7 linked regions of the Homo sapiens genome follow. The protein of the gene in region 1 interacts with the protein of each later gene in a biochemical or structural test. Each region holds a gene or a part of one and is shown in the gene's direction. Other genes may lie near its edges. The genes, in order: ANAPC11, ANAPC2, FOXO3, ANAPC4, UBE2D1, UBE2D3 and CCNB1.

Region 1 (3,760 bases):
TGTGGCAAAATCATAGCTCACTGTAGCCTTCAATTCCTCAGCTCAAGTGATCCTCCCACCTCCACCTCTCAAGTAGCTGGGACCACAGGCATGCTCCACAATGCCTGGCTAATTTTTTATTTTTTTATTTTTTGTAGAGACAGGGTTTTGCTATGTTGCCAAGGCTAGTCTTGAACTCCTGGGCTCAAGGGATCTGCCTGCCTTGGCATACCAAAGTGCTGGGATTACAGACGTGAGCCACCATGCCTGAACAAAACTACATAAATTTTTAATTTTTTTTGTGGAAATGGAGTCTCACTATGTTTCCCAGGCTGGTCTCAAACTCTTGGCTCTGTCCTGCCACAGCCTCCCAAAGTGCTGGGATTATAGGTGTGGCGCCTGGCCCGTACAAATACTTTTTATTCTAGGCTTAACTTTTACATTGGCCCTAGCTAAATAGAAATCTCATCACTCAGGAATTAATCCTCATTTAATCAAACGGGTAGGGTGTAATCTTAGGAAATTATTGATTGACTCTACCTGATTGGATTTGTAGTTAATAGCTAATTAGGTTAATAACTAAATTCACAAGGCACAGTTTTATTTGATCTCTTTTAAATTGCTCTTAAGGATGTAACAAAGAGTGCGTGGGATGCCCTGAGGGCAGGCATTCGACTTCTGGAGCAGCAGCTTAACTTCTGAAATTCCTCCGAACCATGTGTCCACACCTCGTCTGGCTGCATCCGTGGGCCAGATGTGGGTGGTGAATCCTGTGGATTAGAGGTGGTGCTAGGTAGCCCCCAAGTGACTGCAGTGGTGGGTCCACAGGCAGCCTGCAGAGCCCGCCCTGCAGCATGCCAGCTGGGCCTGTGATGGGGCATCCAGAGGGTGTTGCCCTGAACACTCAGCATGTCTCCGCTGACACAGTGTGCTCAGGCTTTGTTAACATGGGGCCTGTTGGCTGCAGAGACTCAGGAGTTGAGAGTCTAATTTTTGGACCTGCTGATGGTTAAGTCATAGTGAGTCAGTGTTAACGCGCAAAGCGTTTGACGAGTCCAATGTGCTTCCATACTAAGCAGCACCAGGTTTCTTTTGCTAAAATTGAACTCCTGTGAAAAATTCAGAGTGACTAAGTTCATTCAACAAAGACCGTGGGAGCCCGAGGCTGGTAAACAATGAGTCCATCCCGCATCCCAGGGGACTCTGGTGGCAGTGCAGTTTTGCCGAGAGGAGTTTTAATTTAAAAAAATGCAATCAGGAGACCAGCAGGTCCTGGAATGAGTCACCCTCAGTGCATCTGCGGACTCATCAGACACCCCAGGCCGGCTTCGGGTGGGGAATGCACTAGAACGAAGTGACACCTTTGACTAAACGAGGCCTCCCCCGAGTACTCAGAGTGGCCCAGACCCCTCTCCTCAGGGGGCTAGCAGGCTTCAGCTCTCATTTGAAAGGGCCGATATCAAGCAGAGTTGTGCTGAGGCCAGAAACCCCCACGGGCAGGTCCTCCCAGGGCTGGGAGTGGGCATGCCGTGGGGCCGGCGCTGCCAGGACAGGAGGGTGGCCACGAGCTCCAGCTCCACAATGCCAGGCCGACCCTGCCGTGGGGCTGGGGCTGGGACTTGCTGTGCTCTGTTGGCAGCAGCTGTTCCTCAGGGGTTTCCAGGCTCTTGGAGATCAGGGACACTCATTTCTCTTGATCATGGCTGATACAAGCATCCCTCTCTGTGTCAGGTCCTCTCCATGGAGAAAGCATTTCTAGGTGTTTGGGCTGGTGCCCGCAGCCTGTGCCTGTCCTGGGAGGCAGGGCCCATCCACAGGTGCCCATCAACACAGCTTCCCCAACGCCTGGGCAGCACACCGGATCCCTGATGTCTAGGGAAGAGTCTTCTAGGTCCCCAGACCCCACCCCTCCTGCCCTTGATCAAGAGACCAGTTCACTACTCAGATGCACGTCTCCTTGGTGCCTTGACCATTCATGTGACCTTTTTGGCATCACAGATCAAGTGTCTGCAGATGGGCCCAGGGCCTGTAGGTCAGACATTGCCCTTTTTCCCCAGCCTCAAGCACAGGGGACACAGGGTGGGCTAGGCCAGAGCGCCACCTCCTCAGAGAGGCCCCTGGGCTCCCCACTGAGCATGATGAGCCTGGGTGAGGGGAGGCGCCTGCTGCGGTTGCCCCGGGTGGAGGCCGCATGTCCGGTGTCCCTTGGTCATTGCTGGTCTTCGCCTGGGGGCGGGCTGGTCAGGAGACCGATTGGGTAACACTCCTGATTTCGGCTTCTCTGAAACATGAGAGGCTGCAGTGCTGGAGCCACTGCCCAGGGTCCCTACCTGCACCCCTGCCTGGCTTGTCACATGCTCTGTGTCCAGCCTGGTCATGCCTGTCCTTTTCCCCACCTCCCCTCCGTAGGCAAGGTGCCCGGCGACGACTGCCCGCTGGTGTGGGGCCAGTGCTCCCACTGCTTCCACATGCATTGCATCCTCAAGTGGCTGCACGCACAGCAGGTGCAGCAGCACTGCCCCATGTGCCGCCAGGAATGGAAGTTCAAGGAGTGAGGCCCGACCTGGCTCTCGCTGGAGGGGCATCCTGAGACTCCTTCCTCATGCTGGCGCCGATGGCTGCTGGGGACAGCGCCCCTGAGCTGCAACAAGGTGGAAACAAGGGCTGGAGCTGCGTTTGTTTTGCCATCACTATGTTGACACTTTTATCCAATAAGTGAAAACTCATTAAACTACTCAAATCTTGCTGGAGGCCTCTGGGTGCCTGTGTTCTCGGCATATAGATGTGGTCTCGGTGTGTTTTGATATGAAAACTCTCATGAATAAACATCTCCGTGAAACGCCAAGGCCCTCGTCAAACCCTGAGTCATGACTGGGAGGAGAAGGAGCAGGATCAGACGGTAGAGCCTGGGGCATGCTCTTCAGGCATGCTCTTGCCTGCTGGATTGCCGGCGGCGGCCCTGGGACCCTCCCTCAGGCTGGCTCTGAGGGACCCTGGCTGTGCAAAGCTGGCGGCCACTGCTTGTGGCGCCTCCAGACTGAAGGCCACCATCTCTGAGTGGGCGTCCATTGTTCTCACTGGGACTGTCTGCAGCGGGGCTGGGCCTCCCACAGTGTAGGGATCAGTGTCCTGACACTGGGAAGTGTGTCCACACGTCTGAGGCTTCCCTTCCTAGGGAAAGGTGGCCCTGGGAGGCTCCTTTGTGTGCCTCTGCTCCCCACAATCGTGGTGGGAAGGGGCCGCTGGGGGAGTGGCAGCCCCGGCATCTCAGGCTGCTTCTGGACAGAGCACAGGCTGTGTCTCCAGTAACCTAGGGAGCCCTTGGCATTCATGGGGCCAGTGACCCGTGCCCAGTGTCTCTTGACCCTTCCTCACAGCAACCTGAGGAGTAGACCAGGCCTCACCTGAAATCTGTGTCAGGGTTCTCTAGAGAGACAGGACTCTATATGAAGAGTATATATGAAGAGTTTATTGGGAGTATTGACTCACGTGATCACAAGGTGAAGTCCCACAATAAGCCATGTGCAAGGTGAGGAGCAAGGAAGCCAGTCTGAGTCCCAAAACAAAAGTAGAGAAGCCGATAGTGCAGCCTTCATCCTGTGGCCAAAGGCTGCAGAGCCCCTGGCAAGCCACTGGTGTAGGTCCGAGAGTCCAAAAGCTGAAGAACCTGGAGGCCGACGTGCGAGGGCGGGAAGCATCCAGCATGGGAGAAAGATGGAGGCCAGATTCAGCCAGTCTAGTCTTTCCACGTTCCTCTGCCTGCTTGTATCCTGGCTGTGCT
Region 2 (4,243 bases), on another chromosome or scaffold:
TGCACCAGGTGACCCGGGAGAGGATGGAGGACCGTTGCCGGGGCGAGTACGAGCGCTCCTTCCTGCGTGAGTTCCACAAGGTGAGGACCCCTCCCTTGGGCTGTGCCCCGCTGGAGACAGGGGAGTAGGTTTCTGGCAAACCTGACACCTGGCTTCAGAAGCATCCAGAGCACGGAGGCCTGGGTGGGCCCAGACCGGGTGGTGGCTGGAGCTGTCTTGATGTGGGGTAGAGACCAGTACTTCTGGGCCCTGGTGATAGCGAGGACGCATCTGAGGTGCGCTCTTCGGATCTGCGCAGAATCCCATGGCTGCAGGCGGTATCGGGCCAGGATCCCGAGGGGGCTACCTCAGGCAGGTGTGGCGAAGCTGGGCCCACCAGAGGAGCCACTGAATGGATCCCCTTCTCCTGTTTGCTGCCCTACTTGAGTGTGGACTCGCTTGGCCGGTCCCTAATGGACTGACCTACAGCCAGCCTGCACCACAGCGGGGAGCGAGACACCCTCACATGGGGCCTCCAGGCACCTGTGCTGTTGGGGTGTGGTCTGGGGCTCTGCTCTGGGCTCCCGGAGCCATAGGGGAGCTGGGCCCAGCCATGTGGGTCCCCCCATCCTGTTCCCATGTGTCACCTGTCCTTTCCTCAGTGTTTCAGAGTCCCCCTACTGAGGTGCAGATTGGCTGTGATGTTGGGTTTTCAAAGAGGGAGGGTGTCCCCAAAGCGGTGGGCAAGAGTGGGTAGTAGGGTGGAGAGGGTGAACATCCGTGCGGTCTTGCCACTGGGTAGCAGGTCTGTGGGGCATGAGCACGCCTGGGCCCCGCGGCGGAATTGCCACCTAGAGGTTTGTGCTCGCCTGGGCCCCCCGGCTGGTCTCAAGGGCGTGTTTATCCATTTAAGTGGGGGCAAGTGTGCCCACCAGGCACAGCGCACAGGTCGTGTGTGTCTGTCATGTCTCACGCTAGGGTTGCTGCTGCCAGTGATAAGTGTGGGCACTGGCGCGTGTGAGAGGCACGAAGACTGCAGGGGGGCCGGGACGTCGCCTTTTGGGCCATCACCCACCCTGCAGGTTTTGATGTGCTCCAGCCTCCAGACGCAGGTGGCCTTCGGGCTCCCCTCGGTCCCGGCCGACAGGGTGGGTGGCCGTGAGGCTCCTCCCAGCCTCTGAGTCAGCCCGGGGCTCACCATGCCTCCCTGCAGCTCACACTAGCGTTCTCCTGACAGTGGATCGAGCGGGTGGTCGGCTGGCTCGGCAAGGTGTTCCTGCAGGACGGCCCCGCCAGGCCCGCATCTCCCGAGGCCGGCAACACCCTGCGCCGCTGGCGCTGCCACGTGCAAAGGTTCTTCTACCGCATCTACGCCAGCCTGCGCATCGAGGAGCTCTTCAGCATCGTCCGAGGTGGTCCTGCCCCGGCCCTGGGGTCCGCTCTCCCGTCTGGGGAGTCTTCCCAGGGCCTTCCCCGTGTCTCCTCTGTGTCTGCATCTGGGCTCCCTGTGCCTTCACCGTGTCTGCTCTGTGTCTGCGTCTGGGGCTCCCAGGGCCTTTGCCGTGTCTGCTCTGTGTCTGCGTCTGGGCTCCCTGTGTCTGCGTCTTGGGCTCCCTGTGCCTTCGCCGTGTCTGCTCTGTGTCTGCGTCTGGGCTCCCTGTGTCTGCGTCTGGGCTCCCTGTGCCTTCACCGTGTCTGCTCTGTCTGCGTCTGGGGCTCCCAGGGCCTTCGCCGTGTCTGCTCTGTCTGCGTCTGGGCTCCCTGTGTCTGCGTCTGGGGCTCCCAGGGCCTTCGCTGTGTCTGCTCTGTGTCTGCATCTGGGCTCCCTGTGCCTTCGCCGTGTCTGCTCTGTGTCTGCGTCTTGGGCTCCCTGTGCCTTCACCGTGTCTGCTCTGTGTCTGCGTCTGGGCTCCCTGTGTCTGCGTCTGGGCTCCCCGTGCCTTCACCGTGTCTGCTCTTTGTCTGCATCTGGGGCTCCCAGGGCCTTCGTCGTGTCTGCTCTGTGTCTGTGTCTGGGCTCCTTGTGTCTGCGTCTGGGCTCCCTGTGCCTTCGCCGTGTCTGCTCTGTGTCTGCATCTGGGGCTCCCAGGGCCTTCGCCATGTCGGCTCTGTGTCTGCATCTGGGCTCCCTGTGTCCACGTCTGGGGCTCCCTGTGCCTTCGCTGTCGCTCTTGCAGGGGGGTGCACCGGGCAGTGCTGGGACTGTCCCCACTGCGGCGTCCCCCGTGCCTGGATCAGGGCAGGTGTGGCAGATGCTGGACAGTGCTTCTGGGTGTCCACTGCTGTGCTGCCTTGGCCTTGGCTCCTGCTGGGGACTGGCCCCTGGGTGTTGCTCTGTCCACCCTGTGGCATTGTGGTCAAATGCATCAGCACGCCAGAGTGTCGGGGGGATGTCTGGTGCCTAGCAGGTGGTCTCATCATCGTCCTGGGGCTGGCAAGCACGTGTCCTTTCCCACACCGCACACACTCTGCACCAGCCTGCACGTGCGCACGCATCCATGTCTGTCCCTGAGGGATGTTCTTCTTCTTGTAGACTTCCCAGACTCCCGGCCAGCCATCGAGGACCTCAAGTACTGCCTGGAGAGGACGGACCAGAGGCAGCAGCTGCTCGTGTCCCTCAAGGCTGCCCTGGAGACTCGGCTCCTGCATCCAGGTGCTGTGTGCTGCCCGGCCACCCAGCACTCTGGGCTTAGACACTCACCAGGGGACCCATGTCCAGGGAGCCTGGGGCCTAGTCTGCCAGCCCTGGACTTGTAGGTCTAAGGAAGAAATGGGTTGAGAAGCAATTGGTGAGGTCCTTAGGGGATCTGAGGTGCCCGTCAGCTTGCTTGTTTCTTCTTTGGAGGGAGTCAGGACTGACCGGTAGGTCTGAGGTGATGAGACTTAGTTCTCTCAGAACAGACCTCCCTGCAGGGCGGGACCTGTGAACAGGTAGAGGTGGGGATGGGGGGACAAGGGAACGAGGCTGCAGTGGGGACCTGTAGACCACCTACCGGCATGGCCAGCTGTCTACTCGGGTGTTGCCCCTGGGAGGCTGTGGTCCCGGGCACTGCATGACTGCTGGCTTCTGCCCTGGCTGTAGGCGTCAACACGTGTGACATCATCACCCTCTATATCTCTGCCATCAAGGCGCTGCGCGTGCTGGACCCTTCCATGGTCATCCTGGAGGTGGCCTGTGAGCCTATCCGCCGCTACCTGAGGTGAGGGCTGCAGCTGGCCCAGGAGCCACTGGGACCCTGGGCATCCTGCTGAGCTCCTCGTGGTCCTGGGGGGCAGCCGGAGGGTGTGTTCGGCCGTCAGGACACAAGGTCTCCCCCGGCTGGGCTGAGTGCACGGGATCAGGCCCGAGGCTCTTTCCTTTCCTCTTGCCCGTGCCGGGCACCTGTCCTTGTCACACGGTGTCACCGTGCCCTCTGTGTGCAGCTGCCAGAGGCCCACCACAGCCCTTCCTCAGCCTCCCCATCTCCAGCACAGAGAGAAGCTCTTCCACTTGGCCTCGCCTTGGTGCTGACCAGTCCCCAAGGCCGACCAGGCAAGGGGAGTGGGCTCTGCTGTCCTGGCCTTTCCCACGGCAAGGAACAGACACTCCTGGGGCTGTTCGGTGGAGAATGTGTTGGGATGAGGACCTTGACATGGCTGCCTGGGAATTCCTCAGGGGTCGCAGAGGCCCTGGCCCGGGGCTGGCAGGCACAGTGGCCCCCAGGAGCCGAGCAGCAGGAGCCGGTGGAGTCTGGCCCCTACCTGGACTCCTTTGGTGCTTTGTGGCTGTAACTGGCCTGGCTTCTGAGCCAGTTCTTTGTTTTTTCTTTTTTTTTTGAGATGGAGTCTCACTCTTTCGCCCAGGCTGGAGTGCAGTGGCACGATCTCTGCTCACTGCAAGCTCCGCCTCCCGGGTTCACGCCATTCTCCTGCCTCAGCCTCCCGAGTAACTGAGACTACAGGCCGCCACCAAGCCTGGCTAACTTTTTGTATTTTTAATAGAGATGGGGTTTCACCATGTTAGCCAGGATAGTCTTGATCTCCTGACCTCGTGATCCGCCTGCCTCGGCCTCCTGAAGTGCTGGGATTACAGGCGTGAGCCACCGTGCCCGGCCCTTTTTTCTTTTTCTTTTTCTTTTTTTTGAGGCAGGCTCTCGCTCTGTTGGAGTGCAGTGGCAGAATCCTGTCTCCCTGCAGCCTCGGACACCTGGGCTTAGGTCTTCTGGCTTAGTGTCCCTATGTGCTGGGATTGCAGGTGCGCAGGCCGGCCTTGCGCTCGCAGCTC
Region 3 (4,243 bases), on another chromosome or scaffold:
TTTCAGATTTCTCTCACTTGAAATTTAGTCTTGCATGTTTGAATTTGGTGAGGAGAATACGTTAGTGAAAAGTTAGTTAACTTTAAACTTAGTTAAAACGTTAACGTAGGAAGGCGTTTTCACCTTTCCTGTGATTTTTAAGGTTACAAAAATAATTTAATTTCACAAATATTTCTTGTTATTTTGTTTATAGTTAAATATAATAAGTTTAATGAACTTTATTTTTGGGGGGAAGATTTACATGAGATAATGGTATTACCAAAAGTAGCCGCGAATTGAGATTGGGCTAGATACATTTTCATATAGTTTGTAGGACTTGCAATACAGATTTTGGGACTAGTCATAAACTTTATGGTTTTATGTCATCGTTTTTTTGTCTTATGGTTTTTTTTTTTTACCCTTCTCTGCTATCTCATTTCTCTTCAACTAAAATCTTAGAAAATACTGTAAATTGAAATTCTCAAGGCTTAATATGCTTAATACAGGGCACACATTTTATGATTCTTTTACCTTAAAATTTTTTACCAATTCCATTTCTGAGTGTCACATGACAACTAATCCTTGACGACTAAAGGGATATAATTTTGTTAGAGTTTTTATAAGATGATCTTCATCAAAAGATGCAGCCATGCAGGAACTTTCAAATCTTTGATGATGGAGAAGGCCCTTTGAAACTGGAGCTGGTTTTATATTTTGATTATGACTAATAGGCAACCTTTTTTTGTGTGTGCTTGTGGTTTAGTGGAAGAAGAGGGAAAAGGGAGAGATCAGGAGCTAATTGTGACCCATTTCCAAGTGTCCAAGTTTAGGAGTTGATTCTTGTCATGATTAGTCATTTTGGAAGCACGCATGTGCATTTAAACCACACTACTTTCATTCTGAGTAATGTAAGAGGATTTTTAACTTCCAAAAATGTCTAGAATTCAGGTTAACGTCTCCTAGTCATGTGTGCATAAAGGGCACGGTATGCAGGGCCTTACTTCTTTTCAGGCTATTTGGGCCATTGCATTATGAGACCTTGTAACCAAAATTATCACCCTAACATCATAAAATGAAAGAATTAGAAAAGAGGACTTAGAGATCAGAATCTAAATCAGTGGTTCTCAGCCCTGGTTGCATGTTTGAATTACCTGGGAACTTCTGAAAAATACAAATACCCAGAGAATTTGATATAATTTGGCTTGTGTGTGGCTTAGCATTGATGGTTTTGTGTTTTGTTTTTTTTTTTCAAGTTTCTTAGGTGATTCTAATGTATAGTTAGGATGAAGTTTTCTGATCTAGTTCAACCCTCTTATTTTACTGGTGAAAAACCTGATTTTTGGAAAAGCTAATGACTTTCTTAAGATCACACAGCTAGTTAGTAGAGAGGTAATTAGTAGCCACAGTTCTAGAGGTTTTTGTTTTCCATTTTCTTCTTTAAATTGATCTTTTTTAAAAGGTCATTTGCTAGGTAATGGATAGTCTCACATAAGTAGCGCTTGCTTTCCTGAAAGGCTTATTTGCCTCTCAATCTAAAAACATCTTGCTTATTATTTCAGCATCAAAAGGATGGGCAAATGTAGATGGAGGCTGAGTGAGTGTATCATGTTTGCATAGCTGTCCAGTGCCTGTCAGTAGGGGTACTTAGGAACTATGAAGTGATAAAAGAGGTAAGAAGGATAGCATTTTAACAAAAAGAGGAAGCCCTTGGTTACTTACATTTGTCAGATACTGTGTCAGGGAGAAGGATGATGACTATCTCACAGGTTCCCTTACCTCGGGCATTAAAGTAGAAATGAACAATCAGATGTGGTTAAGAGGGGAAAAGGTTACATTTCCTTTAATTCAGATTAAGCTTGCACTGCACCCATGATTGAACAAGTGAGTTCTCTCAGTTCCTCTTGTCTTGGGGAGACCTCTAAGGACGCCAGGGCTTACCTGGTAAGGCCTATCTATCACTTATTTCGTTATACACAGCACACATCTGCTTTTCCCATGGGTCAGGGTGTAATCAAATTAGGCAGACTTGAGTTTCTGTAGTGGTTCCCATAATTTCACAAGTGTGGGGGATACTGTGTTAAGATTTCTGCTGCTGCTGCTGCTGCAGAAGATAATTCTTCAAGAGTCCGAGTCTTCTTTCATGTAAGAATGTGTATTGTTATGGCTTCTTGCCAAGATAAAAAGATGAGGGCTGTCCTGTCACATAATGCTTATTTGTGTCCTCACTGTTTCTGTTCTTTAGATTAATACATCCAGTTCCTTTTCAACACACTGTATTAGGAAAATGTTATTTTAACTGCAACTCTGTTTTAAATTTTTTTTTAATTTGAAAATGACTAAGTCATAATCATTCCACATTGGCTCATAATTTTGACCTCAGTCACCTTTTGGAGTAACTCACCAAAAGGCCAGTTATGGTCGTGTGTGAAGAATCTGTCTGCTTGGCCCGTGTTGCCAAAATGTCGTTTTGTAATTTCCTTTGGCAATAGTGTCTTCGTCAGTGATTCTCAACTAATATACTTCCTCTTTCTACAGCCCCAGTACACTAGAGGGACTGTTTTTCCTCTTTTTCAAAGCTGTGTCATTGACCTCTGAAGTGAAGAAATTGGCCCTTTTAGACTTTGATCTGTGAGTCCCATGTAACAGAGACTCTTTAAAAAAGAAGCTAAGTGTGTGTTTTGATATGTTTATCTCCTTCTTAGAAAATGAAATGAAACTACAGCAGACTTATTTTTAGGAGATTTTAGGAGTGTTCTATTTTAAGAAAATGACACCATACAAGAACATCTTTTAGTTAAACTTCTTAGTACTCTGCTTGTGATTCTTACTTAAAACCTGCAAGATACTTTTATTTGGAAAATTAATGAAGAGGCCTTGTCTCACTAATAAGTCATTTAATTTGGTCTGGCAAAAGTTTACCATCCATTCAAAGATCTTCATGAAAATGCAAAGATAAGGCTGTTTAGGCTTGAGCCCAGGAGTTCAAGACCAGCTTGGGCACATAGCAAAACCCCATCTTATTTTTTTTTTAAAGACTGTTTAGGCCTGTGCATTCTGGCAGGTTGCCCCACTTACCCAGAGCAGGTGCATCAGATTCCAGATTCCCAGGGCTGGAGAGAATATGGAATTTATTTTGTTTGTATACCCACTTATTTTGCCTATAGGGACAGACTTGACCCTATTCTCAACTCCTCATTTCTCTCCTTTTCCTGCATCACAAATTGAGGGGTCCTGAAGAGCCACTTTACCTTTTTGGTGCTATAAAAGGAGCTGGGGATCATAAATGCAAAGACGAGTTGATATCAGTGGATGTTACAGCTGGTATACAGTAAGTGAATGAAAGATTGGAAAGAGAAAACCCTTTTTACCCATTTGCATCACATCCCATTTCATGTATTCAACAAATGTTTATCAAAGGCATGCTGCTTGCAGAGCATTTGCCAGGACTTAGGGATATAGTGGTAGCAGAAGGCAGATAAAGTTCCAGTTCACTCACAGGAGTTCATATTCTGATGGAGGAGACAGAAAATAAGCTATAGCATATCTGTGCTTTGTGAATTTGTCATTGCTGCCTATTCCCGTTGCCTTTTTTTTACATCTGTATTTCTGCTTTCTCTAGTACTTCAACTCTGCTAAGAAGTTGCTGGGAAGTGGCAAATTTGATGTGGGGCATGGCTTGGAGCTAGCCTTTAACTCTCTGCAGATCATTTTGAGCTTGCTTTGGAGATGCAAAACCACCGTACCATGGCTCCTGTGGATTGGGTCTGTTTGGGAGAAGCTTTGGTTTTCCAAGCTCCACCTGGATTAGATAGAGCACATCTTTGGCCCTGGACTGATCTGGGATCCCCAGTTCTGTCTCCCAGGGCCTGATGTAGATCTGGCCTTCCTCTGGAGTGGATGTGGAGCCTTGATGCCACTGACTCATCTGTATTACTTGTTGCCTAAAACTCAGAACTAAAAGAGATCTTAAAGATCATCTAACTACCTTATTTTGCAGGTGAGAAACATGCTAGGACTATGTGAGTGACTGGGTTCAGGGTTCCACAGCTAGTAGGGGTGGAGTAACGGGTGTGTCCAGTCAGTGCAGTGGTTCATGCCTATAATTTTAACACTTTGGGAGGCCAAGGCAGGAGGATTGCCTGAGGCCAGGAGTTTGAGACCAGCCTGGGCAACAAAGTGAGACCTCGTCTCTACCAGAAAAAAAGAAAACTAGGCCAGGTGCGGTGGCTCATGCCTGTAATCCCAGCACTTTGGGAGGCCCAGG
Region 4 (4,243 bases), on another chromosome or scaffold:
AGTGCTAAATACTTGATCTGTGTACTTTCTTTAGGGTACATGGGTCAGTATTGTGTGGTGGGTAAAAGTTGGTGCTCTGAAAGCTGGATTTTCTGGGTTGGAAGCTGCTCTACTACTTCGTAGTAACACGGCTGAGAGCAAGTTGCCTAACCTCTCTGTGCCATAGTTTCTCATCTGTAAAATGAAGATGGTAATAATGCTGCCCTCAAAAAACTGGTGTGGAGATTAAATAAATTAATCTACATAAGCACTTAGACTAATGCCTGGCACTTAGCACAGAAGCAGTCTGTAGGTTAGTGTCTGAGCACTTTTTACTCAGTGTTTCTGACAACAAAATGAGAGAAATTTTTTTCCTCCTGACACCAACCAATTTTGACACCAACGGGGTGTCCTACAATTCAATTCTGACACGAATTACAGATAGTTAGCGCAGACCTCACAGGATAAGGATGCAGTCCCACAAGACTGCCCTCGCGTCAAATGTCAGGTCTCTGGGTCCCCACATCTCTTGGGTAGCCATGCTTGTTGTCTGACTTGGCTATAAGGTTAAGGTCAAGAGTTCCCAGAACCTTCCTCCCTTTCAGGTTGGATAATTTTGCTAGAATGGCTCACAAAACTCCGGGAAACATATAATTTTTGTTTACCAGTGTGTTGTAAAGAATATGACTCAGGAACAGCCACATAGAAGTGCTATATCAGGCAGGGTATGGAGAGAAAGGTGCAAAGCTTCCATGCTCTCCCAGCACCTGGACATATTCACCACCCAGAAAGTTCTCTGAACCTCATTGTCCCAGTGTATTTCTGGCGGTTTCATTATGTAGACATGATTGATGAAGTCATTGGCCATTGGTGATTGAACTCAACCTCCAAGCCCCTCTCTCTTCCTTGGAGGCTGGCGGGTGGAGCTGAAGTTTCCAAACTTCTAATCAAGGCTTGGTCTTTTTGGTGGCCAGCCCCTATCCTAAAGCTATCTAGGTGCCAGCCAAGAGTTGCCTCATTAAAACAAAAGATGGTAGTCCTAGCACTTTGGGAGGGTGAGGTGGGCGGATCACTTGAGATCAGGAGTTCGAGACCTGACCAACATAGTGAAACCCTATCTCTACTAAAAATTAGCTGGGTGTGGTGGTGTGCACCTGTAGTCCTGTTACTCGGGACACTGAGGCAGGAGAATCGCTTGAATCCGGGAGGCAGAGTTTGCAATGAGCTGAGACTGCACCACTGCACTCCAACCTGGGCAACAGAATGAGACTCTGTCTTTAAAAAAAGAAAAAAAAAAATGTTCCTGTCACCTTTATCACTCAGGAAATTCCAAGGGTTTTGGAAGCTCTGTTCTAGGAACTAGAAACAAAGATCAATGTTTTTCTGTGATAACATAGCATCTGTCACCTTGAGAACTTAAAATGTTAATGTGATTGTAGTTCATTTTATCCAGCATGGCTTTATCTAAGGGAGGGCCTACAAAGCACAGTGGAAGAGGGTGGGCATTAGAGTCAGACTTGGGTTTGATTGACAGAACTAGATACTTAGTTATTTTCACACTGGGCAATTGCCTAAACCTGTTAAGCTTCATTTTTTTTTTCATCTGTAAATTGGAGAATATGGTGTTTACTTCATATGGCTATTGTAAGCAATAAAAAAAAAGGTATTTTAAACACCTAGCATAGCAGGTGTTAGTGCTAAATTATATATTACTTTCTCCTGATAAAGTAACCTTTTAAAAAGTAAAGAGCTTATTTATATAGAGCTAGTTTCCAGTCTCTTGTTTTAGAGACTTAAAAAACAGTACTGGACTGCTGTTGTTGTTTCACTGTGGCAAAGAATAGAAGAATGAATTTTATTTCATCATATATTTGATGGTTCCCAAATCATTCCTTGCTTCTTATAGCCAGCAGAAACCTACAGTTGGATTTTGGTGAGTCTAAGTTTGTAGTAAGTGAGATTGTTTTTAGTGAGCTGTCAGCGGGGGTTGATGAAAGGCAGAAGACCATGGTCGTTTTTAATGAGGTTGTGTGAAAATCCAATGAAGTGGTCAGTGAAAATTCTACCTCGAGATAAACTGTGCAGACTGGCTCTAACAGTAGATTATTTTCTTCTAATTATAAGTTTGCTATAGCTTCTTTTATTTTTGTTTCTGTTTTTGTTTGAAACCAGAAAGTCCTTTGCTGTTTCCTTATTATCCTCGAAAATCATTGCATTTTGTGAAAAGGCGGATGGAGAATATTATTGATCAGTGTTTGCAAAAGCCAGCAGTAAGTTTGAAAGAAATGCATGTCTTTGTGTAGGAGCAATAGTGTCTACAGTATGTGGCTCACTTATGTAAATGATCTTAATTTTTAGAATGAACTATGAAAATGTTGATAGTCAACTGTTTTTGATTAACAAAAGTAACAATTTCATATGGTTCAACCTAATACTCCAACTTAAGTTTCTTACACACGTGTGTGTGTGTGTGTGTGTGTATAAAGATTACTGAAGGTGTTGGCATCTTGAGTATTTTATTTGTTCCCAGAAGAAATTCATTGTAAACAGTCTTAGTTACAGAGCTGATGTGTCTCTGCTTACTACTGAAGGATGTGAATGAATGGTTGTTATGAGACCAGAGGGAGGTGGTCTTAAACCTGCCATGTGCTTAGCACCAAGGTCCTTTTCAGCTCAGAATTTTCTCTTTTTCCTTACTGTTACAATTGTCATTAACGTTTCTTATGTACAAGGTTTGGTGATGTAGGCGATTTTTTTACCACATTCGAACAGTGATGGTCAGTCACTTTCTGTAGAGTATCTGTGTGCATATTAACGCTCTAATTATATTTTAAAATCTTATTTTATATAGGATGTAATTGGAAAATCGATGAATCAAGCAATCTGTATTCCATTGTATAGAGATACCAGAAGGTAATTCTGTTTACCTATTGGATGGTGTAATTCCGCAGCCAATTTAAATTTTTCTCATTTCTTTTTCCCTTTTATTTTAGTGAGGATTCTACACGTAGATTGTTCAAATTTCCTTTTCTGTAAGTATATATTTCTTCCCTATCTTGAGTGAACAATACAATTTTGTTTTATCCATCAATAGTTAAAAAATATTATGACAATTTTTTTTCTTAGGTGGAATAATAAAACTTCAAATCTACATTATCTTCTTTTTACTATTCTAGAAGATTCACTTTATAAAATGTGCATCTTAAGGAGACATACTGATATTTCTCAGTAAGTATTAATCTGAAGTTTGAATCAAAGAGATAAGATTTTATTATTTGTAAGAATGAAGCATACAGCCTTCCAGCATTTCAGATTTTAAACTACTTTGTGACTTTTAGATGTGTCATTTAATTGTTAGTTTTCATGTCATTAAAAGGGTAACACTGAATTAGGAAGTTATATGATCTTGTTTTAGATTATTTAATTTTTATTGGCATATAATCATTGTAGGACTTTTTTTAGAGTTAGGAAAAATATGACAGCTCAGGATATTATACTTCATTTTTTAGAAGTTAAAAACTTCCGAAAAACTAAAAGTTAAAGAAGTTTTAACTTTTTAGAAGTTAAAAACTTCTAAAAGTGGCTGCCTTATAGAAATGATTTTTGCCTAGGGTTAAGTATGCTTTTCATTAAACAAGAGGCCTTGCCTAACAGAGACTTACTTTGAAATTGAAAGTAGAAGTTCTGAAAAATAAATCATATTTAGAACGCCATTGGTAGCTTAAAAATGGTTTTAAACCTGAATTTGAAGAAAATGTTGAGACCACGATGTAACCAAAAAGAAATAATTGGGTTATTTCTATTCCAAATGTCTTTGGTGACTGTGTGATTTTAAACCAAATTGGTTTATCTATCTAGGCATTTAAACAAGTTCTCAGTGTTCTAAAGAAGTACATGTACTGACCCTGACAATCATGTTCTTTTAAGCCTTTAGATTATTGACTATCCAGGTTGTTCCACAGAGTCTCTTTTTTTCCCCCTTCTTTCTTGAAGATCTGTGAGTAATGGACTAATTGCTATTAAATTTGGGAGCTTTACATATGCCACAACAGAAAAAGTCAGAAGAAGGTAAGTCTTGAATCTTGTTTGGATGAAATGTAGATACATGTGATATGTGTATATGTTTAGGAATAGGATCAGACTCAGTTACGGTGGTAATATAGGTAAAAGGGCTTTGCCACTTCCCACATCAAGGGCAGGATTCTTTGTGTATTTATACATAGAGAATGATTTGACTTGTGATTGAATAGAACCTTACTGCCCT
Region 5 (4,243 bases), on another chromosome or scaffold:
CCTCAGATAAGTCTGCTGTAGTGTAGTAGAGGGTACAAGCAGGGGAACAGCTTCTAAGGCAGTGTCTTAGAATCACCTGTGGGACGTTTTCAGACTGTCATCACTTCTATAAATGGAGAGATGTTGAATCCCTCAGATCGGTTGGGGTGGAAAGAAGACTGAGGACCACTGATGTTCTGGCCTGTCCTTATTCAAGGAAGGATCCAGAGGCCTGGAGTGGAGGAGTGCTTTGTCCAAAGATAATCTCTTTTTTTTTTTGAGATGGAGTCTTGCTATGTTTCCCAGGCTGGAGTGCAGTGGCATGATCTCGGCTCACTGCAACCTCTGCCTCCTGGGTTCAAGCAATTCTCCTGCCTCAGCCTCCTGAGTAGCTGGGACTACAGGCGCATGCTGCCATGCCCCGCTGATTTTTTGTATTTTAGTAGAGATGGGGTTTCACCGTGTTGCCTAGGCTGGTCTCGAACTCCTGAGCTCAGGCAATCCACCTACCTCGGCCTCCCAAGGTGCTAGGATTATAGGTGTGAGCCACCACACCCGGCCAATAATCTCTTAATTGGCTTGGCTATTTGAGAGTGTTAAAAAGTTCATGATTTCACATTTCTTCACTATGAAAAAGAATAAAGATGATTGGATTAAAATTATATGTAAAGACAGAGCATGGAGATATCAATGCTTAAAATATATTTTTATAGTAGAATAAACTAACTATACTAGAATATACTAAATGATTTAATGCTCTGATTTAGTGTGCCAGTTTTGCATTCCAGCTCATAAATTTACACACCCATGCCCTATTTTTAAATAACAGTGAAAGATGTTATCGCAGTCACCTAAATCATTAAAAGAAAAAAAGTTTGAACAAAGTCTAAGGAAAGATACCTAAAACATGTCTGAAAAGAGGAGGACAGTTTTTCACCTAGGTATCTATTTTCTAGAAGTAATTTCTAAGTTGTTTCTTCTATCAATACTATTTTCATTACTTGAAACACTTTTTTTGGGGAGGATTATTTTTTAAATTACAGGTGTTAATATCCCAATACCAAATGTTTTGAAAACTAAAGGGCAAAAAAAAGGAAATCCTAAAACAGTCATTGTCATCATCATAGATTTTATTTGATAAAGAATTTGAGGTAATGAACATCATACTAGCATTATGTGATGTGATGTGATGTGATGTGATAAGTTTATTTACATTTTTGTCTTTTGAAAAGTGAGGCAATAGAGTTCCGTTTTACAAACATAGCAACTCAGAGAACTATTCCTTAGTGTGTAATTCTGGCCCCCAAATGGAACATTAGTTGTTTTTGTTTTTTAATAATCAATGTAATCTGAAACATATATAGAGAGACATAGATTAAAATCAAATTTGATAAATGTTTGAGCTGCTGAATTTTTTTGATTTGTAGAATTTTATGTTAAACTGTTTATGTCAGTCTAGAAAACTTTAGGATACTTAACCCAGCCCTCTATGGACGGAGCATCAAATGGAAGAAGGAGGTCTGAGTTTTTTTTGTTTTTAGACAGGGTCTCACTTTGTCACCCAGGCTGGAATGCGGTGGCACAATCTCGGTTTTCTGTGACCTCTGCCTCTGAGGCTCAAGTGACCCTCCCACCTCAGCCTCCTGAGTAGCTGGGACTACAGGCCTGCATCACCACACCTGGCTAATTTTTGTATTTTCAGTAGAGATGGGTTTTCACCATGTTGGCCAGGCTAGTCTCGAACTCCTGACCTCAGGTGATCCACCCGCCTCAGCCTCCCAAAGTGCTGGGATTACAGGCGTGAACCACCTCACGCAGCCAAAGGTCTGGTTTTTATTCCTGGCTGTGTGGCTTACTAGCTTCGTACAATGAGGCTAGTACATATTTTCCATACATTTCCATACAATGGATATGTATGGATATCCATACATATGAGGCTGCTGATCTCAAAAACCAGGGTGTTTGTAATCGTTACTCTGCCTTCTAAGTACTTGACATATATTAATTGACTTAATTCTTAGTATACCCAAGAGGTAGAAACAGTGTTATTTCCATTTTACAGATGATGATACTAAGGCAGGGAAATATTGAGTAGTTTACTCATGATCACATTATCTAGTAAGTGACAATGCTACGATTCCAAAACAAACAGTTGGCTTCAATTCCACATTCCTTTTTTTTTTTTTCAGTCTTAGAATCTTTTATTTAATACCTTCTCATGCCCAGTTAACACAAAAATAGTTGCAGTTACATATCGCTACTGAAAGCTACCAAACTGCCTATCTGAAGAGAGAGTCAAGGATCCTTCTCTTCCACTTCTTAGGAGAGAATGATAGTTTTTGGATGTTGAAGAGAGCATTCACTGAGATTACTGAACTCACCAGATATACTATAAAGCTTTCTGTCTAATGTAGCCAGTAGCCACATGGAAACAAATTGGGTATGAAAATTTAGTTTTCAACCTTGAGCTTTATGAAATCTAAATATAGATCAAATATTGCTGACGAAAATTTAGTATCCAAATTGAGATGTGCTGAAGTGTAAAATATGTACTGGAATTTGAAGACCTAGTATACAAATCTAAATAATTGTTACTAATGAGATATTTATAAACATTTTTATATTGATTAAATTTTGAAATGATGACATTTTGGATAAGCCACCTAGTCAGGCTAAGACTCATTTTCTTTCTCTGTAAAATGAAGGAGTAAACGATATCAGAGTACTACTTGCCTTATTCTGTCTTTACATTCAGGTTCTAGAAACCAGACCATGGGCAGAGCATTTTCCTCCTTGTTCAGCAGAGCAAATTTGTGGGCTTTTAAAGATGGTAACATTGTTTCTTAAATCACTTTCCATAATTTAATATCAGTAATCTGTTTATAGAAGAGAACAGCCACATTCCCTGACAAAGTTTTGTATGACTTTACTTTTTATTTTGCTTTTAAGCTTGGCTGTAATATTATTACTGAACCTGTGACACTTCACTTAAAATGTCAAATCCTTTAGTGGAGAGAGTGTTATTTCCTTGTCTTAATCTTTTTATATGCCAATGATTGTGCCCCCTAGGATAGCAAATAAAATCTGTCAATAAACTGACTGAACAATGCTATCCAATAGAAATACAATGTGAGCTACATTTTAATTTTAAATTTCCTAGTAGCCACGTTTTTAAAACGGGAAGTAGAAGCAAGCAAAATTAAATTTAATGTGTCTTATGTAATTCCATATTCTTAACCACTTCAGTACATAGCTTCTCTTATCCACATGAACTCGTATCTATTGTACTTAAACTGGAAGACATAGAGTCAAATGGGTTTATGGGATATAAGTGCTTTGCAAACTGGAATGTTCTATACAAATGTAAAGTGGTGTTATAATTAAGACCTTGGCATATTTGATCATTTTCACTGACACATTGCTCAAATGTGTTGATTGTGCTTCGCAAATCTCTGCTCCAAAGTAACACATGCTGAGATCGTTTAACATTGTAAATCAGTAATATAACTTTGATCATCTTTGTTTCATCACTTTGAATTTCTCTCCTCCAAAAGGATTTTGAAACATTGGTTGTAGTTCATAAATGCTCTGTCAAAAGTATCATTGCATTGTGAAGTTTTTATTTGAGATAACTTTTTGAATTGACAGAGTCATTTAGTTCCTGTAGTGGTTTTGAGTAGTAAACTGTTCATATTATGAGATTAAATCCAAGACTCCAGTTCTTTCTAGAAAGAATGATACAACTTAAAGAAGCACGGTATTTATGCATTTTGGGATAAATGGTTTTCCTTGAGATGAGAGCGAGATAGTGTTCTTTCTCTAATAAGCCACGATGTAAATTTTTTTTTAAATCTTTGTAATTAAGCTCAGTCTTTCTTTTGTCCTTGATACTGTATTTTTCTTTCTTCATCGCAATAGAGGTATAAAAAAATGAGGTAACCTATGACAGTTAAAAAGTTCTGAGATTTCTTCTCTGTGGAAATAAATAGCCTAGAACTAAATAAAGCTGTTTATGCCTATTTTAAGAAGCCAGGCACATATGAAAACCAAACCTAGCAGGATGTGGGATTGCCTCCAGGAAAGCAAAATAGCGTCCTTACTCGCTTTAGTTCCCTGAAATACGCATAGAAAACATATGGGCCCTTTATTTTCATTTAATGAGTGCTACTAATAGAAATGATAAACCTAATATTTAGCCATAAAACTGAGTTAATGGTCATCTACTAATGTAATAGTCCCTGCCTTTTTAATAGTGAATAAACTG
Region 6 (4,243 bases), on another chromosome or scaffold:
CCTCAACCTTGTTATGTAGGGAAGGGAAAAGTTTAGGGAAGTATTTTTATACTTTGTTGAAACATCTGATTTTTATCTCCTAATGATACTTTCAACATAATCTATTGTAAAAGAGACCTTCAACTTTTCATAGCTGAATTTGTCGTATTTAAATGTTTGTCAATTGTGAATCATGATTTCTTGTACCTTTTTCAGTATGAAATACTTACATTAATCCTAACCTTGCTGTAATTTCATGGCTAATGTGTAATTGAATGTTTTCTACTACTGGGCAGCTGTTTGGCTGTTAATCTTTGTTTTTTTTGTTTGTTTGTTTGTTTTGTTTGTTTTAATGTCCATAAAACACCCTTCTTGCTTTCATGGAGCAGAGCTTCAAATCTAAATTTGGGTTTCTTTGCCCATTTTTAAATAATGCTTACAAAAGAATGGCTTTGAATAATGTTAAGTGACTTTACCTTCAGTGGTGATCGAAAGAAAATTAGTAATATTCAATCCATTCTTAGTACCTTGTGTAATGAACACGCATGCTTGTTTCACCTATAATTACGACTAAACAGGAAGTTAATACCTTGTCAGTGATGCAGTGAGATACTGTGCAGTGCCTACTGTTAAACCTTAAGATAAAAAAGGATTTCTCAGAAGAAATTTCAAATTAAAATGTGTTTTAAAGGGACTATTTGGAGTTTTGTGAAATTGTTCATATCTTTTTGCCAAGCATCCTTCTCTTGAAATAACCATGTTTCTGAAGTTTGTTGTTCCCTGCCTTGATATTCGCATCTACATATTTTATACAGACATTTCATAACATTAAAGTTAATAAAACTTTATAGTAAACCAGATCTTTATATGAACAGTTACAGTAGTTACTGTCTGCCTGATGGACAGCTAATTGCACTGCACTTCGACCTCTATTGTTGGTTCGCACCTTTGTATTTTTCTAGGTTGGTTGTAAAGTCTTCTTGAGGATGATTCTTAAAATTTCTTAAGGCACTTACTCCCTTTGTTTCCCACCTCATTTTATCATCTCTTCCAGTCCCCAAAGCAGTGTTTTGTGTTGCTCAGTATAGGTTTTTGAGGCAAGGGCTGTTTTTATAATGCTGATTCACAGTCATACAAATCTTGTCTTTTGAGTCATGTAAATCTTGTCTTTAGTTCTGAAAGAAATAGACTCTCAAATAGAATACAAGAAATTAACCTTTAGTAATGGCATAAGCTTTTAGTTTTCCGGAAAGTGCTGAGAGGAAATGTATCTATACTACTGCGTTCTGTCCTCTGTATGACCTTTGTGTGATGACGTGCAAAATAGATGGTAGAGATTGGGATAACAAATGATTTGTGGAACATCGTGGTGATAATTTTACTGTCTTAAAGGTAGAATCCATGAACTTGGCCTTGCCACTATATAGGCTTTTGAATTTTGACAAGCCTTGGGGGGATGAAACCTAGAATAAGTTATTTATGGCGTTACGCTTTAATAGGGTTGACACTTAAAACCTTGTTTTCATAAATGCTACCTTTTGGTTATGTTGATCTGATGAACAGATACTGGCTGTCATTGAAAGAAAGTTAACCGAATGTTCAGATACTTATTGGGCTCCTGGAACATGGCTGCTCTGTAGCTTCATGAATATTCATAATATTCATAAATATTTGTGAATAAATATTTTTAGTATTTCCAATTTATAAGCTCTTTGAAAGGAGGGAATTTTTTTTTTTTTTTTTGAGGCGGAGTCTTGGTCAGCTGCCCAGGCTAGAGTGCAGTGGCGCAACTGCGGCTTACTGCAACCACCGTCTCCTGGGTTCAAGCAATTCTCCTGTCTCAGCCTCTCGAGTAGCTGGGATTACAGGCACCCGCCATCATGCCCGGCTAATTTTTATATTTTAGTAGAGATGGGATTTCACGATGTTGGCCAGGCTGGTCTTGAATTCCTGACCTCAGGTGATCCGCCTGCCTTGGCTTCCCAAAGTGCTAGGATTACAAGCGTGAGCCACCACGCCCAGCAAGGGAGGGGACATTCTTATGTTTCTCCTAGCATCCTTTCAGGTCTTTAATGTTTTCAATACCTTGGCCTACTGTTCTTTGTAGCCTGTGGTTGGTCACCACTGCTAGTACCACTTATCATTGAATGAGGAAGATAGAGAATAGAGAAGCAGAAAGCATAGTTTAACATCTCCAACAATCAACTGTTAAATCCCATATCCCATAGTGACTACAGTAAAGGTCTTCCTCAAGATAAACCATTTGCAGGCTTTGTATTAAAAATCTCATGTAAGGAATGTTTCAGAATAAAAAAAAAAATAGTGACCAAACCCATTACTGCTTAAATCATGTACTTCCAGATGAGAACACTCACCAGTGGCTTAAGCTGTACCTGTTGGTTGCCTTTTAGAGAGATTTTTTTGGTGAAAAAAATCCTGCCCTATTTTCTACCATGGTGCCCACCAGGTCTTCAGGAAATAGGCAAACAACTCAGTTGTGTAAAGTCTGTTGCTGTCTCAAATTTCTTTGTAGTGTTTTAACTAATGAGGCGAACTAGACCATGTGAGAGCTTTGAGAGGGTCTCATTTACCTAGCTTAGAAAGAAGGCAGAGGGGTCTCCTTGACTTCTTTTCCTATAGGTTTTTTAAGGCTTTTAAATACAAGTATTTTTTCCAGTGAGAAGGTCTGGATTCTCACACTAGCCAAGTGTGCAGAAAGTTTGAGGAGAAGCAGCTCAGAGGAAGATGACACTAAAAGGAGAAAGTTTCCTAAAAGAGCACTCTGTGGAAAAGAAATGTCCAACCTTTTGTTCTTTTTATAGCTAGTACAGTTTCTTAGTGTTGTACCCTGATTGTATGTGCTTGATCTTAGTGTCCCTTCAACGTGAGTGGAACCTTGAGCAATTCCTAAAGTAAGTCAGTGTCCCCAACCAAACATTTTCCTGTTTCAGTGGCCTTAATAGTTGAGTAATGCTGTTCCCCTTAGGTGAGGGGTAGTCAGCACAGTATAAAAAAATTTTACAGGTGCCGTGTGAGAGCTGTTCCTTCTGGTTCTTGGCACTGTTCCTCTTCCTCTAGACTGCTAGGAAGGAATAAGCTGAAAATTTCAATTGTGTAATTTTTTAGTGTTTTTGTCCCTGAAGCCTGTGAAACTTTAGGCTCTAAAAACATTTTGTTAGGTGACTATCGTAGACAAAATTACTTTTAAAAATGCTGAGTATGGGTGTCGTTGGAAATTGATTTCCAGTCCAGTAAATAGTCTTGCTGTGGGATAGAATCATTTTCTCAGGCCATGTAACTTGAAAAATAGTACTGGATTCACACTACGTACGAATAATGAGATACAGACTAACGGTGGATGGTTATGCGGAAATAAATACTAAGGAAAACATTAGTTTTCCATATCGTGTTCATTCTGGAGCATTGAGTAATAGTTTGGTGCAGTTGAGAATTTTTTTCCCTCAGTTTGCCAAACATTAAATTATCTTTGCAAGGACACCCTGTTGAGAAAGGAACCTTTTTGAAACTTACCCCTAGTCCAAATTTTTAAGTTGTTAGTAGGTACACTTAGTTCACCTATCCTAAAGCTGAACATGTTCTATGCTTGAATGTAATCATTTCTTTCCCCTCTCTTAAGGGACTCAACTGTAAAACAGAGAAGATGAGCTCTATTTCCGTAAAGTGGTTATAAGAGTACAGTTAAACACTTGTGGTGTACGACTGCTAGTATATTTAAAAATCAAAACTCATTTGTCTTCTATTTCGAAACCATCAGTGATTTCCCATTGCCTTTGGAATAGTCTGACTAAATTCAAGGGCTCTTTTAAAAGATCAAGTCATAACCTGCCTTTTTAGCTAAATCTGCCACTCTCCTGGTGTACTCTGTCTGGTATACCAAACTCTGCAGTATTTGTTCTGGCAAATTTTTATGCCCTGTGTTCTTTGACACTCCTGACTTTGAGTTTCTCTACCTAGAATGCTTCTCTCACTCCTTGTTCTTGGTAAATGCCTGCTTATTTTTCCATCAAGAGCCAGCTCAAATGGCACTCCTCTAAACCCAGGAAAAGTTAGTGGTTGGTTTTTCAGGATTCTCAGAGCATTTGAGTCCCTTTATTTTAAGCATGTAGGTTGTTAAAGTATAATTTTTGTTTTGTCTTGCACCTGCTTTCTGTTAGCTGAGTCTGAGGAGGCATTTCTATCTTAATTATCTTGGTGTTTTTATACCTAACATGCATGGCACCAAAAAGGCAATGTTCCTATGAAT
Region 7 (4,243 bases), on another chromosome or scaffold:
ATAATGTAGTATCTTTATTTGGAAGGGAGTGGACCAGCAGCAGTTGTGGTGAAGAATATCGTAAGACCTGACAATATAAAAAAGCTGTCATACTGTCCTATCTAATGTTTGCCTTTTTTTTCTTTTTTTTTTGGGGTGGGGAGACAGTCTCACTCTGTCACCCAGGCTGGAGTGCAGTGGTGCAATCTCGGCTCCCTGCAACCTCCACCTGCCAGGTTCAAGCAATTCTCCTGCCTCAGCCTCCCAAGTAGCTGGAACTACAGGTGTGCGCAACCATGCCCAGCTAATTTTTGTATTTTTAGTAAAGACAGGTTTTGCCATGTTGGCCAGGCTGGTCTCGAACTCCTGGCTGCAAGCAATCTGCCAACTTCAGCCTCCCAAAGTGCTGGGATTACAGGCGTGAGCCACCACGCCAGCCTTCATGTTTGCTTTATTTCTTGGTGATGGTGTTGTTTGTGGTTGACCATATGAATAATTGAATTAAGAACTGATATAGATTATAAATGCCCCAGTGCTACTGTAGGAACTAACTGATCTTTCTGGACATAAATGTGTCACATGGAGTCATGTTTCTAAGAATAATCAGCATTTTCTTTTGCAGGAAGAGCAAGCAGTCAGACCAAAATACCTACTGGGTCGGGAAGTCACTGGAAACATGAGAGCCATCCTAATTGACTGGCTAGTACAGGTTCAAATGAAATTCAGGTTGTTGCAGGAGACCATGTACATGACTGTCTCCATTATTGATCGGTTCATGCAGGTGAGCATTTCAGTAAGAGTTTTCCCTTCCAGGATTCTAGCCGAGTCATAAGAAACTGATGTTTTCAGGCCAGTCTGGGCGCAGTGGCTCATGCCTGTAATCCCAGCGGGCGGGTGGATCACAAGGTTAGGAGATCGAGACCATCCTGGCCAACGCAGTAAAACCCTGTCTCTACTAAAAATACAAAAAATTAGCCGGGCATGGTGGCGGGCGCCTGTAGTCCCAGCTACTGGAGGCGGAGGTTGCAGTGAGCTGAGATCACGCCATTGCACTCCAGCCTGGGTGACAGAGCGAGACTCAAAAAAAAAAGAAAGAAATAAACTGACTTTTTCAACTAAAATCTTTCTTGGGGGATATGGTGTCATTAAGATTTTGCTATGGGAGAATGTCTTTCTACCTCTCCTTCATCATAGCTCTGTGTCTCCTTTTCAAACATTTTATTCACCCTATTGAAATTCCCATTGCAGAATAATTGTGTGCCCAAGAAGATGCTGCAGCTGGTTGGTGTCACTGCCATGTTTATTGCAAGCAAATATGAAGAAATGTACCCTCCAGAAATTGGTGACTTTGCTTTTGTGACTGACAACACTTATACTAAGCACCAAATCAGACAGATGGAAATGAAGATTCTAAGAGCTTTAAACTTTGGTCTGGGTCGGCCTCTACCTTTGCACTTCCTTCGGAGAGCATCTAAGATTGGAGAGGTACAGGTTTCTTGAGAAACCTCTCCGTATGGGTACATTAGGGGGAACACTGCTGCTGACCAAGCACGTTGAATTCAACTGACCTGTATTATACCTAACTACATGGGGAAGGGATAAAGTTGTTCTTTATTTCTAGTCAGGCTGCATGTTAATATTAGGACTTTCCATGGGCATTTGAGAGTTTGTAGACAAACATTTGTAGTTAAAGATACATATGGGCATGCAGGTTAGTGCCAAAGGAAAATTTTCTGAAAGAAACTCAGTAACATGGGTTTTGTTTCAGGTTGATGTCGAGCAACATACTTTGGCCAAATACCTGATGGAACTAACTATGTTGGACTATGACATGGTGCACTTTCCTCCTTCTCAAATTGCAGCAGGAGCTTTTTGCTTAGCACTGAAAATTCTGGATAATGGTGAATGGGTAAGCTGTGTCCCACAGAACTCCTAAGCTTTTAAATTTTAAAGAGTGACTAAATACAGAACTTTTGTTATTAAAAGGCAATTCAAGTGGTTCATAAATATGGGATCTACTGAAGGAATAGTTAAAAAAGATGTCTTAGAATGTTTCCACATCTTTTTGTTTTTGAGACAAGGTCTCGCTCTGTCACTCAGGCTGGAGTGCAGTGGTGCAGTCTTGGCCCACTGCAACATCAGCCTCCAGAGTAGCTGGGATTACAGGTGTCTGTCTAGTTTTTAAATTTTTTTCATGTCAGATGGGTAATATGCCCACATTGTAACAAGGTTTGAGGGTGGCACGTTTCACATGTTCACATGAACACCAAATCATCACACTTATGAACTACAAAAGAGTCGCCCACCAGCCTGGGCAACATAGCAAATCCTCATCTTTACAAAAAATATATAAAATATATATATATATATATATATATATATATATACAGGCACACGCCTGTAGTCCCAGCTACTCTGGAGGCTGAGCTTTGTATTTTTTGTAGACATGGGGTCTCTCTATATTACCCAGGCTGGTCTTGAAACTCTGGGCTCAAGCGATCCACCCACCTCCACTTACCAAAGTGTTGGAATTACAGGCGTGAGCCATTGCAACCAGTCGAGTGTTTCCATTTCTTTCCCTGATTTCAACTTTATTCCCTTTGAGAAAGGTAGAGCAACTTTTACTCCTTACAGATGGAGAAACTTGAAGGTCAAATGACATACTAGTAGTTCATTCATATTCATTGATTCAACAAATGCTTCTCCTATGTGACAGGCACTACCCTAGGTCTTTTTTTGTTTTTTCGAGACGGAGTCTCTCTCTGTCGCCCAGGCTGGAGAGCAGTGGCGTGATCTCGGCTCACTGCAACCTCCGCCTCCTGGGTTCATGCCATTCTCCTGCCTCAGCCTCCCGAGTAGCTGGGACTACAGGTGCCTGCCACCACGCCCGGCTAATTTTATATATATATATATATTTTTTTTTAGTAGAGATGGGGTTTCACCGTGTTAGCCAGGATGGTCTTGATCTCCTGACCTCGTGATCCGCCCACCTTGGCCTCCCAAAGTGCTGGGATTACAGGCGTGAGCCATTGTGCCCGGCCTACCCTAGGTCTTAAGAATAGAACTATGTAGCTGGGTGCAGTGGCTTACATCTGTAATCCCAGCACTTTGGGAGGCAGAGTTGGGCAGATCACGAGCTCAAAAGTTCAAGACCAGCCTGACCAACATGGTGAAACCCTATCTCTACTAAAAATACAAAAATTAGCCAGGTGTGGCAGTGCGCGCCTGTAATCCCAGCTACTCAGGAGGCTGAGGCAGGAGAATCACTTGAACCTGGGGGCGGAGGTTGCAGTGAGCCGAGATCATACCATGCACTCCAGCCTGGAGCGAGACTCCATCTCAAAAAAAAAAAAAATTACAAAGTTGGCCTCAAGGAAGTGGAGTCTAGTTTTAGGGTGGGCAAGTCAGCAATTACAAAAGTGCAATTAGGTTTGAGCAGAGGAAGCATGAGAGCACCTAGGAAAGGAGTCTTTAGCTTTGTCTTAAATTTCAGTTATATTAATTATACAGTACCCATCTCTTTTCCACTCCTGAATAACATCTAACATCTAGAAACTTTATGAAAATCATTATTGATTTGAGCATTTTTAACATTAACTTGTTGCCTTAGACACCAACTCTACAACATTACCTGTCATATACTGAAGAATCTCTTCTTCCAGTTATGCAGCACCTGGCTAAGAATGTAGTCATGGTAAATCAAGGACTTACAAAGCACATGGTGAGTCAATATAGTGGCATTGTAAGATGCTGAAAAGTGTAATAATTCAAACTTAATGCCTGCAAATGCCTGGTTTATTTTTAATGAGTTAATGTTTTAAATGAATACCTGTATCATTGCATCTTGTGATTTTTTTTCTTTTGCCTCTTTAATTGCTATCTTTTTGTCTTCCAGACTGTCAAGAACAAGTATGCCACATCGAAGCATGCTAAGATCAGCACTCTACCACAGCTGAATTCTGCACTAGTTCAAGATTTAGCCAAGGCTGTGGCAAAGGTGTAACTTGTAAACTTGAGTTGGAGTACTATATTTACAAATAAAATTGGCACCATGTGCCATCTGTACATATTACTGTTGCATTTACTTTTAATAAAGCTTGTGGCCCCTTTTACTTTTTTATAGCTTAACTAATTTGAATGTGGTTACTTCCTACTGTAGGGTAGCGGAAAAGTTGTCTTAAAAGGTATGGTGGGGATATTTTTAAAAACTCCTTTTGGTTTACCTGGGGATCCAATTGATGTATATGTTTATATACTGGGTTCT

The links.
Region 2: the proteins of ANAPC11 (region 1) and ANAPC2 form a complex in vitro, tested with the Homo sapiens proteins (one study listed by BioGRID).
Region 3: the proteins of ANAPC11 (region 1) and FOXO3 form a complex in vitro, tested with the Homo sapiens proteins (one study listed by BioGRID).
Region 4: the proteins of ANAPC11 (region 1) and ANAPC4 form a complex in vitro, tested with the Homo sapiens proteins (one study listed by BioGRID).
Region 5: the proteins of ANAPC11 (region 1) and UBE2D1 form a complex in vitro, tested with the Homo sapiens proteins (6 studies listed by BioGRID).
Region 6: the proteins of ANAPC11 (region 1) and UBE2D3 form a complex in vitro, tested with the Homo sapiens proteins (2 studies listed by BioGRID).
Region 7: the proteins of ANAPC11 (region 1) and CCNB1 form a complex in vitro, tested with the Homo sapiens proteins (one study listed by BioGRID).

What each region holds. Positions count from the first base shown.
Region 1 is NC_000017.11:81,897,532-81,901,291, forward strand, and holds the end of ANAPC11 (anaphase-promoting complex subunit 11), read left to right. Parts: intron 1-1,710; coding exon of another isoform or gene 1,711-2,011; intron 2,012-2,388; coding exon 2,389-2,534; coding exon of another isoform or gene 2,535-2,619; 3' UTR 2,620-2,724; downstream 2,725-3,760. UniProt on the Homo sapiens protein: Together with the cullin protein ANAPC2, constitutes the catalytic component of the anaphase promoting complex/cyclosome (APC/C), a cell cycle-regulated E3 ubiquitin ligase that controls progression through mitosis and the G1 phase of the cell cycle.
Region 2 is NC_000009.12:137,182,061-137,186,303, reverse strand, and holds part of ANAPC2 (anaphase-promoting complex subunit 2), read left to right. Parts: coding exon 1-80; intron 81-1,216; coding exon 1,217-1,391; intron 1,392-2,512; coding exon 2,513-2,632; intron 2,633-3,061; coding exon 3,062-3,179; intron 3,180-4,243. UniProt on the Homo sapiens protein: Together with the RING-H2 protein ANAPC11, constitutes the catalytic component of the anaphase promoting complex/cyclosome (APC/C), a cell cycle-regulated E3 ubiquitin ligase that controls progression through mitosis and the G1 phase of the cell cycle.
Region 3 is NC_000006.12:108,563,574-108,567,816, forward strand, and holds part of FOXO3 (forkhead box protein O3), read left to right. Parts: intron 1-3,598; exon of another isoform or gene 3,599-3,976; intron 3,977-4,243. UniProt on the Homo sapiens protein: Transcriptional activator that recognizes and binds to the DNA sequence 5'-[AG]TAAA[TC]A-3' and regulates different processes, such as apoptosis and autophagy.
Region 4 is NC_000004.12:25,411,494-25,415,736, forward strand, and holds part of ANAPC4 (anaphase-promoting complex subunit 4), read left to right. Parts: intron 1-2,151; coding exon 2,152-2,249; intron 2,250-2,830; coding exon 2,831-2,892; intron 2,893-2,972; coding exon 2,973-3,011; intron 3,012-3,105; coding exon 3,106-3,207; intron 3,208-3,906; coding exon of another isoform or gene 3,907-3,913; exon of another isoform or gene 3,914-3,972; coding exon 3,973-4,047; intron 4,048-4,243. UniProt on the Homo sapiens protein: Component of the anaphase promoting complex/cyclosome (APC/C), a cell cycle-regulated E3 ubiquitin ligase that controls progression through mitosis and the G1 phase of the cell cycle.
Region 5 is NC_000010.11:58,337,607-58,341,849, forward strand, and holds part of UBE2D1 (ubiquitin-conjugating enzyme E2 D1), read left to right. Parts: intron 1-4,243.
Region 6 is NC_000004.12:102,816,809-102,821,051, reverse strand, and holds part of UBE2D3 (ubiquitin-conjugating enzyme E2 D3), read left to right. Parts: intron 1-4,243. UniProt on the Homo sapiens protein: Accepts ubiquitin from the E1 complex and catalyzes its covalent attachment to other proteins. In vitro catalyzes 'Lys-11'-, as well as 'Lys-48'-linked polyubiquitination.
Region 7 is NC_000005.10:69,173,650-69,177,892, forward strand, and holds part of CCNB1 (G2/mitotic-specific cyclin-B1), read left to right. Parts: intron 1-601; coding exon 602-760; intron 761-1,227; coding exon 1,228-1,464; intron 1,465-1,747; coding exon 1,748-1,888; intron 1,889-2,174; exon of another isoform or gene 2,175-2,278; intron 2,279-3,589; coding exon 3,590-3,700; intron 3,701-3,874; coding exon 3,875-3,982; 3' UTR 3,983-4,243. UniProt on the Homo sapiens protein: Essential for the control of the cell cycle at the G2/M (mitosis) transition.